Homo sapiens: one gene and its partner. The protein of the gene in region 1 purifies or fractionates together with the protein of each later gene. This does not show direct contact. Each region holds a gene or a part of one and is shown in the gene's direction. Other genes may lie near its edges.

Region 1 (7,029 bases):
AATGGTTTTCCAACTTTGGGCTGAACCAGCATTGATGTTATTAAGACATTCATATTTCCTGTGGAGCAATTTCAAAAGCAGTTAACTTTATCCCTACCAGGTGATCCTGAGGGCCTGAGGGAAGTCCACGTTTAGGTCACAAAAGCCTACACAGCAGGGAAAACACTGGTTTGGGGGCTGGTGTCTTGGATTCCAATCGCCAGCTGTGTGACCTGAGGCAAGTCACTTTACCTCTCTGAGTGTCAAGCTCATAGGAGGCCCCCAACATCAAGATATGATGCTCAGTGTCTGAAGAACATAGTCTCCGTATTTTTCTGCCTCCTTGTACCAGCTCCCAACCCCCCCGCCAACACTTCGTTAATTGCTCCCAGAAAAACTCTATGCTTAAAGTTTTCCATGCTTAAATTCTCAGCCTCACTGTGGCATGAAATCAATTGTTTGCATTGAATTTGACTTCTCAAATTAAGGGGTAAAATTTGAGATGAGAGTAGGGGGTTAGGGAGGAGATGAGGACGAAGTTAAACCAGATGTGCTTTTGTTTAATTGTAGGATGGTGGTTAAGCTGCTCAAGTATTACCATCGTTCTTTCTGAATTCCAGTAACCAGGAGTCAGGTTTCACAAAAAGTCGTAGTGTTCTTTCCTGGCTGGTGTGGACTCGCCCTCTCTATTATTATTATTATTATTATTATTACTATTTTGTATTCATCTGAGGCCACAGAGTACTGGCCAGAGAGGAGACATAGATCCCCAGAATTTCAGTTGGAAGGCCTTTAGAAGCTGGCTCGGTCAACTGGGCTCTTGGTGCACCAGGGAGACTGAGGCCCAGAGAGGAGAAGAGGCTTGCCCAGGGTCACACAATTGCTTAGGGCAGAGTGGACTGGGAATTCAGTCTCCTGGCCTTAAGCTACATGATCTTTCCAAAGGCAACCACTCTCCTGAATTTGGTGTGTTTCATTTCTACAGTATATTCTTAGCATATCTGTTTTTTGAAAATCATTGTTTAAGGGAGGATGCAGATGATGTGGGTTGGTGGAAAAAGATATTAAGCTCAGGAGAGCTGAGCTGAAGTCCTTGAATACCTCTGTGACCTTGGGCAAGTCACTTCCCCTGTCTGAGTCTCAGATTCTTCATCTGTAAACCAATATATCTGAGGAGTAGGAGTGGAGAGATGAGACTTCCCTAAGACTTGGAATGGGTCTAATGTATTCAACTGGTCCTCAGATATTTATAGCCTGCTGTGTGCTGGGTTATGGGAGATCCATCACAAACTGCCTTCCTAAGGCTGCAGGGGGTGGGGGATTGTTGACTTTTGCGGTGATTAAACAACTTTTATTTAGTTGCTGGTGTTTTTAAACCAGGCAATTTCATTTTATATAAAGATAAGGATTTCTGGCTTCTCTTGAAAGATCAGAAGATGTGGCCATATGGGGCTATGTCCCTGCCTGGCCACAGTGGCTGGAGCTGATTAGCAGCTGCTCCATCCACTTTACCACAGTCTCCACCACGCCCCACTGCCTCACACTTGCCCACCTGCCTCCCTGACATTACCTACCTACCTTCTGAGCTTGCGGTTTCTGGGCTAGATGCAGTGAGGCCATGTAAGAGGGGCTCAAATTCCACTTGAATGATTGTGTGGGGCTTGGGCCAGCCCTCAGGGGGCTCAGGGTGAGAATATGGGACACGTGGACACTAGCCCCTCTTCCATAGCCTGGCAACATCTACAAAACATGTCAGCTAGGCGAAGGAGCTTTTTTCCTGCTTCGGTGGTCCTCAGGAAGAGTCTGAGGGCTCTGGAGGTTTGGGGGTGATAGAGCATCTACCTGTCAAGGCTCAGCGAGTTGAGCCCAGGGTCTAGCTGGGGACAGGCATCGCTGGGTACTTCATTCTAAAGATTGCACAGCCCCTGCAGGGAAGAGACTCCCTTGACAGCTTCCACCTTACCCCTTGCTCCCCAAGAGCCCTGTGCATTGGTGCGCCACTTCACCCTGTGCTCCCTAACAGCCCTGTGCATCAGTGCATAACCACTTCTCAGACAGGAAACACGATCTTGCACTCTGAACCCACAGCTCTCTGTTCCACCCCCTTTGCTGGGAGCCAGGGCCTGGTGATGACAGGCAGGTACCATGGTGGCTGCAGCAAGCATCTTAGAATCGCCATGTCTGAGCCAGAGGGTAGCACAGGAGGCTGTGAAGCCTGATGGTTACATGCGGGGGGCTCTGGAGGCAGCTGCTGTGATGTGAGATTCTAGGTCTCCACGAATCAACTGCTCCAGGGGTTATGAGATGGACAAGGGAGACTGATTGATTGTCGATTGCTGATACTAACCTCACATCCCCTGGTCCTTACACCTGCAGACGACTTCAGAAATGTGCCCTGTGTGGGAAGTGGCATTTTGTGAGCACCATTGGGTACCAGGCACTTTCGCACATTACCTTTGATACTCACCTACCCCCTACTCTCCAGCATTTTGCAGTTAAGGAGACTGAGGCTCAGAGGGCAGACACCTTAGGATTACTCCTCCCCTAGGTCTCTATGCCTCTCTGCTTTGACCCAGGGAAGGGAGGAGAGGACAGGCTGGAAGGTCATTTCTGGAAATAAGGCCGTGGAGACCCTGTAGTGAGGCCCTGACCCTCCAGACTTTCTAAGCCACCCCCTCCTCCTCCACTCCAGCTTGTTTCAGAGATGCTTCTTCATCCTTCCAGAGCTCAGTTTGTCATTCAGGTGCATGAACTTTACCTGGCCAGGTCTGCAAACTGCTGGGCAGAGCTCAGCAAATATTTTATGTTCTTTAAAAAAGTTTTTAGGTGGCTGAAGCAAATTGCTTTTACTGGAAAAACCAGAAGTGTGACCTTTATTTTATTTTTGCAGAGATGGGGCCCTGCTATGTTGCTCAGCCTGGGTTCAAGAAGTCTACCCACCTTGGCCCCTGAAAGTGCTGAGATTATAGGCATGAACCATTGTGCCTGGCCCACAAGTGCACCCTTTAAAAAGATCTACCAGGTGACCCTTTTTTAGACTGAGTATCGCTCTGTTCCCCAGGCTGGAGTGCAGTGGCGTGATCTCGGCTCACTACAACCTCCGCCTCCCGGGTTCCAGAGATTCTCCTGCCTCAGCCTCCCATGTAGCTGGGATTACAGGCACATGCCACCACACCCAGCTAATTTTTGTATTTTTAGTAGAGACATGGTTTTGCCATGTCGGCCAGGTTGATCTTGAACTCCTGACCTCAGGTGATCCACCCTCCTCGGCCTCGCAAAGTGCTGGGATTACAGGCATGGGCCACCACACCTGGCCCCAGTGACTTTTTGTTGGGTCAACCTCTTGCCTTCTTTAGTGCACCTTTACTAGGTCAGTAAAGCCACAGGGTGGGTACCACTTAGCTCTCAGGCTGACGTTCTCAGGCCTCTTGCTGGCTGTCACTGAAGTGTCTCAGGCTTGTTGTTTTTTTGTTTGTTTGTCTGTTTTGTTTGTTTGTTTTGTTGTTGTTGTTTTTTGAGACAGGGTCTAGTGGCTCTGTTGCCCAGGCTGGAGTGCAGTGGCACGATCATGGCTCACTACAGTGCAGCCTTGACTTCCTGGACTCAAGCAATCCTCCTACCCCAACCTCTCAAGTAGCTGGGACCACAGGCATTCGCCACCACGCCCCGCTAATTTTTTTTATTACTTGTAGAGATGAGGTCTTGCAATGTTGCCCAGGCTGGTTTCGAACTCCTGGGCTCAAGTGATCCTCCCACCTCATCCTCCCAAAGTGCTGGGATTACAGGTGTGAGCCACTGCATCTGGCCAGCCTGGCCTTTTGGAGGATCTCATCCCCCTCCACCTGTCTCCACCTGTCTCCACCTTGACTTACCTGTCTCTCAGCATACAGGAGTTACTAACTGACCCGTCTGCCGCCATTCTGGTGAGAAAATGTCTCATCTGAGGCCCATTTCCCCTCCTCCACTCCTTCTGAGCCCTTCTATAGCTCCTCTTCTTTCTCTGCCTCATTCCGCTGGTCCCTGCCATGCCACTACTAACTAAAAGTCCATAGACTATAAGCCCAACATGCACGTACTAGGCATGGTGCTCAGTGCCTTGCCTGTAATTACTATTTGGTCCTACAGCAGCGCTGGGTGGCAGGTGCTATTATCCCCACATTACAGATGAGGAAACGGAAACACAAACTCCCCCAGCTGGGAAGTGAGAAGTAGACATGTTTGTTCCCTGCGGTGACCCATCCATCCATTCAAGGCTACTGCTTTCTCCGTAATGCAAATGACATAACCCATCTTCCTAGAAGAGTCAGTTCCCTATTTATCTTAAAACCATCCAATATAGAAATTCATATTCTAGGTCTGTTAGCCTATCAAGATATCAGAGATAAGCAGGTTTCCTCTCAACAGCTTGTCCAAGCCCTTAATCACCTAAGTGATTTTTTTGTGTGTGAAAATGCTGTTTTTTTGCTTTTCCCCATGACCTAATCCTTATACAGATGCTCCTTGATTTACCAAAGGTTTTTGTCCTGGAATTGTAAGTTGAAAAATATCATAAGTAGAAAATGGTTATAACACCTAACCTGTCAAACATGGTAGCTTAGCCTGACTTACCCTAAATGTGTTCAGAACAGTTACATTAGCCTATAGTTGGGCAAATCATCTAACACGAGGCCTATTTCATAATAAAGTGTTGACTATCTCATGTCAATTTCTTGGCTATACTGTATTGAATGTGAAAAACAGAATGGCTGGTTGGGTACTCGAGGTGTGGTTTCCACTGAACACTGTAGCTTTTGCATCATCGTAAAGAAAAAAATCTTAAGTGTAAGTTGGGGACAGTCTGTAATGAACATTTAAGGGCTTACTCTGTGTCAGAAACTGAGCTAATCACTTTGAATGACCTTATTGTATTGAGCTCATAATTCTTTCCATTTTGCAAACAAGGAAACGGAAGCTCAGAGAGATTGAGTAATGTTCTCAAAGTTTGGAAAGTGCAGGTGAGACTCAAATCCAGGGTTGCCCAATCAGATTGGCATCTGGATTCAAATTTGCATGTTTGGAGAAGAGCTCTCAGGGCACCTTGTGGTACACATTTGTTTTTCAGTGAGTGTTTGCAAATGACATGGGGGTGGGAGGCCCCAGGGGGAGGAGACAGAACATAGACACACCTGGTGGGGCACCAGCGTCTGTTCTCCCAGACAGTGTTTCTTAGCCTGTTCACCCCCTCATAGGAAATGACAAGCCTAGAAGGAAGCATCCTGAGAAACCCAGAGGGGCCTGGGTTTGAATCCCAGCCCTGCCATTTCAAGCTGTGTGACCTTCGCCAAGTCCCTTTCCCTCTCTTAGCTTCTGGCTACCCTCCCTACCACGCATGGTTTATTTGAATGAGGCAAGGCCTTAGGATTTTTCGATTTGTGGATGGCGAATAGCCAGCATGTCTCCTTCCTCTCTCCTGCCCTGCACCCACATCAGACATCACTAGTCAACCACTGCTTGCTTTCCTTCCCAGATTCCTTCTAAGTACAGTGCTCCAGACAGCCATTAGCAACTAATATAGAGTTGGCACACAAGATAAAAGGACATCCCAGAACCAGATTAGATTTGGTCATTGTGTGGGTGGGGGTAGGGAAGGGATAGGCCCAGGTGGCACCCAGTTCAGTGTCACGGTGCTCCTTGGTCTTCTTTTCCTTGTCTTTGGAGGAACTAAGCTAGACTGTACCAGGGCCCACCCCAGGTGTGGGGTAGGAACCTTTTATGAGGCACAGAGCTGTGCCCGTGTTCAGTCCCAAGGGAGAGGCAGGTTTCTGGGCCTCATCACTGTCTAGGCTTAAAGTAAGAGTGACGAGAAAGAGGCTGGTTTCAGGTCCTCCTGGAAAGAGTTAGGCCTGCCCCTCTCCACCCTTTGTAATAACATCCATAGTAGTAATAAGAGTTCTCGACACTGACGGACCACTTGTTACGCACCAAGCCACTCTGCGAAATGCTTTGTATACATTTACACATTTAATCCTTATACCAGCCCATTTTTCAGGTGAGGAGAATGACTCAGAGTAATTAGCCTGGGTTTGCCCAGCTGGTAAGTGTCGGAGCTACGATTTGAATTCATATCTGTCAAACCCCGAATAAATAACTCTTATTACTACGATGGATATTATTACAAAGGATGGGGAGGGGCCAGCCTAACTCTTTCCAGGAGGACCTGAAACTGAGCTCTTTCTTTTTTTTATGGTATTCAGAACATCACTTTATAAACTGTTGTCAGATTACCATTTAAACATTAATACCCAAATACAGAATTTAGACAATTACTTTAAATTGTAACTGTACCATCCCCAAGCTCTCAGCTATGAATTTGGTTTGGGGAGAGGGCTCCGTAATAGGCCACTGAAGTCCCCCGTCCCACCCCTTTTTTCTCCCCTGAAAACTAGCTGCCTGACTGCTCTGCCAGACTTGGGCTAGAACTTGGCTTCACTGTGACAGTGGGACCACCTGGGCCCTACAGTGTGGCAAAACCGACCCGCCCACAAACTCCATCCCAGGTGTTGAGATGCTAACACACTGAAGCTGAAAGACCCCACTTGGTTTTGCCACAGATCAAGTTGCATCTGACTAGAGAGCCTGTCCTCTACCCTATTTCCTGCACAAGTCTTTTTCTTTGTAATGCAACAAGCGCTACTCAGCTCAGATCCAGTGGGACACAGGGAAAGGGGCTGTAGTGTAGCCCAGCCTTGCTGAGGGAGACCCCTGCCTCGCCAAAGCACTTCGCTCACAAAGGCTGAAACTGGCCTCTTTCTCGTCACTCTTACTTTAAGCCTAGGCAGTGATGAGGCCCAGAAACCTGCCTCTCCCTTGGGACTGAACATGGGCACAGCTCTGTGCCTCATAAAAGGTTCCTACCCCACACCTGGGGTGGGCCCTGGTACAGTCTAGCTTAGTTCCTCCTGCTTTCCTCCACCGCAGGCTCAGTGCGGGGCCCGCGGCCTCTGCGTCTTTCTCTCAGCTTACCATGATCATTTCTCATTGATGAGTGCGATACGTCTTTGCCCGTGGAAA
Region 2 (6,297 bases), on another chromosome or scaffold:
GCCTCTTCTTTGCGGTTAAACACACACCTAGTCTTTTGAAGATAATTCCTGGCTCATTGGCACTCTCTCTAACATTTGTCCTTTCTTAAGTCTTGGTGATTGCCATATTCACATAGATGGTTATTCTAGTAACTTGGCCTCTCAGTTTTACTTCCTTTCTTCCCATTATCCTGTTTTCTATCATGCCTTAAACATTTATTTTCATAGACATACCCTAGTAGACCTTGCAATTAATAAGAACAAATTACCTGCAATAATTTCAGTTTTAAGTATCCCACCCTGACCATTGCTTCCTGTTACTCTCATTTATTTCCTTCTAGTTCTCTTGTCACGGCATTTCTTCTGCCCCAGTGGCATCTGTAACCCACTTCACTTCCTCCTTACCTGGCTTAGATTCCATGACACTTCTGTAGTCCAGTTACTCTCTCCCTGTCCTGGAGGATCTTTCATATCTTCCCTGTCCTCAAACCTGCTAGGCCTCCTCCCCCATCTTTACTCTCGGTTTTTTGTTGTTGGGAAGATAGAAGCCATCATAAGTCTACCATCACTACTCACCTACTTCCAAGTACCTATCTAAGGCCTTCCCTCCCTTGGGTCTATGGGATTCTATCTCTTCTCTCTTACTTGATGTTTTCCTCTCTGCTGGATCATTCCTTCTGACATACAAATATACTGTAATTTCTCCCAACTGAAAAAAAAAAAGGTTTTCTTTCCCCTTCTGCTTCTCACACAGTCTCCTCATTTCTCTGCTCTCCTTTTCTTCTTGTGCTATCACCTGGATCTGCTCTTGTCTCCTTTACTTGACCTGTCAGCAGCATTTGACATAGCTAATTACCCTTACTTTGTAATACTTTTTTTTTTTAACTAGGCTTCTCAGATACCACACACTTCTAATTTTCTTCTTACCTTAATGTTTGTTCCTCAGTCTCCTTTGTGATTCTTCATCTCCCATTTTTTTACATTTGAAATGCCACCAGGGCTTGTTCTGGAACCTCTTCTCTATGATGAAGATCTCTAAATTTGTATTTTCATCCTTGACCTCTTCTCTGAACTCTAAATATATTCTGGCATTCTTTTTGATGTTGGATCCTAATAGGCATCTCAAAGTCAACAGGTCCAAAACCTAACTCATCTCTCACTCATCCAAACCTGCCCTTCCCTCAGTTTTTCCCACTTCAATAAATGGCAGTGCTGTCCTTACAGAGCTCTGGAGTCATTTTGACTCCTCTTTCTCAGTCCTTCTTTAGTCTGTCAGCAAATCCTGTTAGCTCCACCATCTAAATGTATTGTCCAACCATTTACCATCTCCACAGCTACCATCCTCTCTCACATATGTTACTGTAATGATGTTCTTTTTTTGTTTTGTTTTTTTGAGACAGAGTCTCACACTTTCATCTAGGCTGGAGTGCAGTGGCGCGATCTCGGCTCGCTGCAAGCTCCGCCTCCTGGGTTCACACCATTCTCCTGCCTCAGCCTCCCAAATAGCTGGGACTACAGGCACCAGCCACCACGTCTGGCTAATTTTTTGTATTTTTAGTAGAGACGGGGTTTCACCATGTTAGCCAGGATGGTCTGGATCTCCTGACCTCGTGATCTGCCCGCCTTGGCCTCCCAAAGTGCTGGGATTATAGGTATGAGCCACGGCACCCGGCCCACTGTAATGATGTTGTAATGGACTTCTGCAGCCCTCTCTCCACCCATAGTCTATTCCCAGGACAGCAAGCAAAGTGATCCTTTTGAAACATAAGTCAGATCAACTCAGTCTTTTGCTCAAAACTCTCTCAGAGAAATTGCCAAAATCCTAAGGATGGCTTAGAAGTCCATACATGTCTATTCTCTGCACTCCACACACCGATGCAAACATACCCTCATCTCCTTGGCTCTCATCCTCTCCCACTTCATTCTGTTCACATTAGGCCCCTTTCTGTTCTTAAGACATTTCAGGGATGTTCTTGCCTCAGGGCCTTTGCACTTGCTGTTCCTTTTTCCTGGAACATTCTTTTTCCAGATAGCTTATTCTCTTACCTTTCTTGTCTCTGCTCAGACATCTGCTTAGTGAAGGCTTTTCTGCCCATCTATTTAAGAGAACATCTTCTTTTTTTATACTGTCTGTTCCCTCACACACACTAAAATGAAAGTCCCAAAAGGCAGACATTTATATTATGTTCACTGCCGTATATCCTTACCATCTAAAACTGCCTGTCACATATAGGTAGGCTCAGTAAATATCTGAATTAATGAACATTTCTAAAATGTATCAGGTCACAACTCATCAGATCATGGACTGCCACCAAAGCCATGTAACTGCCAATAAAACTGGGCACAGAAGTCTAAAAATTACTGTGATATCAATTAGCAGTTGGTCAGAACTTGAGAAAATATTTTGAGGTGTTGAAAATAGTTAAAGGAACTTCACTACTAGCTCTCCAAGTTGGGAGTTACTGCCTAGACCAACAATTATTGAGGAGCTGTGACCTTTTGAGCACTAGTTAATGATAGACACTGTTTTAGTCATGACAGTAATCCTGAAAGCAGGTGGAAGTTCTCCCATTTTAAACATGCAGAAATAGAGCCTCAAGAAACTGCTTCATTTAAAGATAATACTAGCTTGACAATCCACTGAATATGTCCTAATAAATGGAAACAGGGTGGGGGATGTCAGCCTACCAGTAATTGGTGTCATTAAACCCTCTTGAATGAATGGACATAGTAATGGCCTTCAGGGTACCTTGAAGTATAGCTAAAGGAATCTCTGGAGTTCATTTAGTAAAGCAGTTGGCATCCCTGGCCTGGGATCAGAGTAAAACCTGGAGCTAGATTGATTACAGAGTGCAAGGACTAGGCACCCCGGGATTGGAGAGCATCCTTGAAAGCAAGGGTTCTTCATTTATTTATAAAAATTTGATTGCCTACTAGAAGCCCAGCTAAGAGTATGAAGCAATTAAGACAACAATCTTTGCTCAAGAATCTCCTAGACAATCCTGATTCAAGCACCAGAAACAAAGGGAAAAGAAACCTCCCAGTCTAGTGAAGAAAGTAGTACACATCATGTCAACAGATAGGTAATTTTGTTGATACCATAAGAGCCTATTATTAGGCCTGGCATATGACAGGAGGTCAGTATTTGAGTTGAGTATTGATTGATGGTACTGTGGAAGACAGAGGAAACACATCTGACCCAGATTGGTAGGCTTTCCCAGAAAAGTTTATGCCCAAGTATAGTGTTAACAAATAAGAACTTCTCAGGTGAGATAGGGGAGAAGAGTCTGCGAGGAAAACCTGTCTAGCATGGCAAATACGAAGTCCAGAGATGAGAGAAGATGGTCCACGTGGTTTAAAAGTCTACAACAAGGTAAAGGAGGTACACAGTAATTAAAGTAGGAAAGATATGTCAACACCTAAGAATCAGAACTAGTATCTTGAAAAGTTAGGAGCCCTGGGGTTTTGTTTTTGCTTTTGCTTTTAAAGGATGTGTTTGTTCCCTGTATCACCGTGCCCAGCTTACTCCTTTTCTTCGGAAACACTTGGTGCCGTATTGTTACTGGTTGAATCTCTGTGTTTGGTTTTTAATTTGTTATCTTTGCCCCCATGCTTAGGTTTGATGACAAATACACCTTGAAGCTGACCTTCATCAGTGGGAGAACAAAGCAGCAGCGGGAAGCCGAGTTCACAAAGTCCATTGCTAAGTTTTTTGACCACAGTGGGACACTGGTCATGGATGCATATGAGCCTGAAATATCCAGGCTCCATGACAGTCTTGCCATAGAAAGAAAAATAAAGTAGCCAATTCTAAAAGTAGCCCTCTTTCTCCTGGATCTTGCTGAATTAGTGGCTTGGGGGGTGGGGGAGATAAAAAGAACTTAAAATGGGTAAAGTAAGAAATGTTAAAAAGTCCCTGTTTTGTCCTGAAATTTTAGTCTATTCTGGGTAAATAGGATTTTCTGACACAGATATGAGAAGTTGTAGCTCTGATGTCTAGCTGTAGTCTCCTTGATCTGCTGATTGCATTATTTTAATTTGCTTTTCTGGGAAAGCAGTTTTGCTAAAAGCTGTACAGACTTTTTCTTTTGTACCTAGCAGTACTTTATATAGTATAGCTTTGGGCCATGTAGCATTTTAAGACTCAATTTTAAAAAATTATTAATCTGTTGCTGACTCTTAATTCCTATTTCAATATGTGTTTCCTTGAAGAATTCAGGATACAACTTCTTGTGTATGACAGCTTTCCTTCACACACTATTTTTGTGGGTGTGTATATATCTGATTTGGGAAGAATTTAAAAAACACATAGCTTTTTAATTTGTTTGAAACAGACTTTCTGCCTGTTACATTTTTGCTTTTAACCAATTAAAGAAGCCAATGGCATTTTAGTTTTATATTGTGTTTTCCACTAGTATATCCCTGTTGATTTGTTTGTGCCTTTTATTAACTGCCATTTTCTAAAATTTTTTTCAATAAAAGGAAGGAAGATGTGAAAAAAATGGAGTCATAGTTTTGATGGAGAGAACAGAGAAACAAGTGTTAACATCTTTCTACTATAGGTTTTTTTCATTTTTAGGCTATTTTACTTGTCAAAGGCCCCTGAGAACCTGTAGCTAAGGAACTCTTAGCTTTCCAGTGATAATAACAATAATAACAACATTCTGTACTTACTTTGTGCCAGAAATGCTCCAAGTACTTTACATGTGTTAATAATGCTCACAGCAATCCTAAGAGGCAGGTGCTGTTATTATCCCCATTTTACACATGAGGAAACTGAGATACAAAAGTTAAATAATTGTCACACAGCTAGTGATAGAACTGGGATTCAAACCTGGGGAGTCCGGCTTCAGAGTTTGTGGTCCTGCAGAGACAAAACAGCCGCTTTTCCAGTATTTTCCCAGTATGGTCAGAGAAGACCTGGGTGCTTGCCAAGATCCTTTGACCTTTAGGAATATTTCCCTACAGCCTTACAAAACATCAATTTTGGCTGAGCCTAGTACCCAACACTATATTCAGTTTGTAAGAAATTACCATTATCACATTTCCTGTTTGTCTTGGAGAGGTTGTCCTATCTCGCACCACATGGTAGGGAATTGTGAACAACACTGGACAGAAAGTTAAAGCCTTGGATTCTGTACTCTTCATTCCTGTAAACCTTGGGTAAGTTTCGGAATTCTCTGTGAGCTTCTTAAAGTTTTTGAAAGCATGTAACCGGATAAGTGTATTTTTACAATGGAGGAGTTACAGTCATCTTGGTATTTGTGGGAGATTGGTTCCAGGATCCCCAAGCATACCAAAATCCAAGGATGCTCAAGTCCCTTATATAAAATGGTATAGCATTTGCATATAACCTACACACATCCTCCCATATACTTTTAATCACCTCTGGATTACCTATAATACCTAATATAATGTAAATGCTATGTAAATAGTTATACTGCATTGGTTTTTTAATTTATATTTTTTGTTATTTTTTAAAATATATTTTTAATCCATGGTTGGTTAAATCTGTAGATATAGAGGGCCAACTGTACTGTTAGACACAAGGGTCTCGAGGCTTGCAGATAGAGACTGAATAACCCTCTCCATGATGATCCCTTAGAGTTCCCCCACTGTGCCTTTTTCTTTACATGTGCATGCAAACATGTGTCTCCACATACATTTTTTTTAACAAAAATTGAATTATGTTGATATATGTCCTGTAATTTGTGTTTTAAACTTAATATATCTTAGGCATTTTCCCTGTGTGTGTGTATAATGCAGCTATTAAAAATGAGTCTGAGGCCAGGCATGGTGGCTCACGCCTTTAATCCTAGCACTTTGGGAGACCAAGACAGGTAAATCACCTGAGGTCAGGAGTTCGAGACCACCTTGGCCAACATGGTGAAACCACATCTCTACTAAAAATACAAAAAATTGGCTGGGCATGGTGGCAGATGCCTGTAATCCCAGCTACTTGGGAGGCTGAGGCAGGAGAATGGCTTGAACTGGGAGGCGGAGGTTGCAGTGAGCCGAGATCACACCCTGCACTCCAGCCTGGGCAACAAGAGCAAAACTCCGTCTCAAAAAAGAAAAAAAAAAGAGTCTGACATACATATATATAAAAGAAACTGTTCTAAAATACCAGAAGTGCAAAGGCAGGGGACCAATTGCAACAAGTAGCTGGGGTGATAACCCCTATATATATATACACATAGGTCAGTCTCATTTTTAATAGCTACATAATATTCCATAGTATAAGTGATTTTACTTTAATACCCTATTGATGATAATTTTTCCCCAGTTTTTTTCACTATTCCAGGAAGGAGTATGGAT

Evidence for each region. Proteins that work in one complex are often made in the same cells at the same time.
Region 2: the proteins of ALPL (region 1) and SPCS2 purify together in Homo sapiens (affinity purification with mass spectrometry; 2 studies listed by BioGRID and IntAct, with this or other methods). This does not show direct contact.

Annotation. Positions count from the first base shown.
Region 1 is NC_000001.11:21,512,394-21,519,422, forward strand, and holds part of ALPL (alkaline phosphatase, tissue-nonspecific isozyme isoform 1 preproprotein), read left to right. Parts: intron 1-7,029. UniProt on the Homo sapiens protein: Alkaline phosphatase that metabolizes various phosphate compounds and plays a key role in skeletal mineralization and adaptive thermogenesis.
Region 2 is NC_000011.10:74,973,261-74,979,557, forward strand, and holds the end of SPCS2 (signal peptidase complex subunit 2), read left to right. Parts: intron 1-3,596; coding exon 3,597-3,783; 3' UTR 3,784-5,773; downstream 5,774-6,297. UniProt on the Homo sapiens protein: Component of the signal peptidase complex (SPC) which catalyzes the cleavage of N-terminal signal sequences from nascent proteins as they are translocated into the lumen of the endoplasmic reticulum.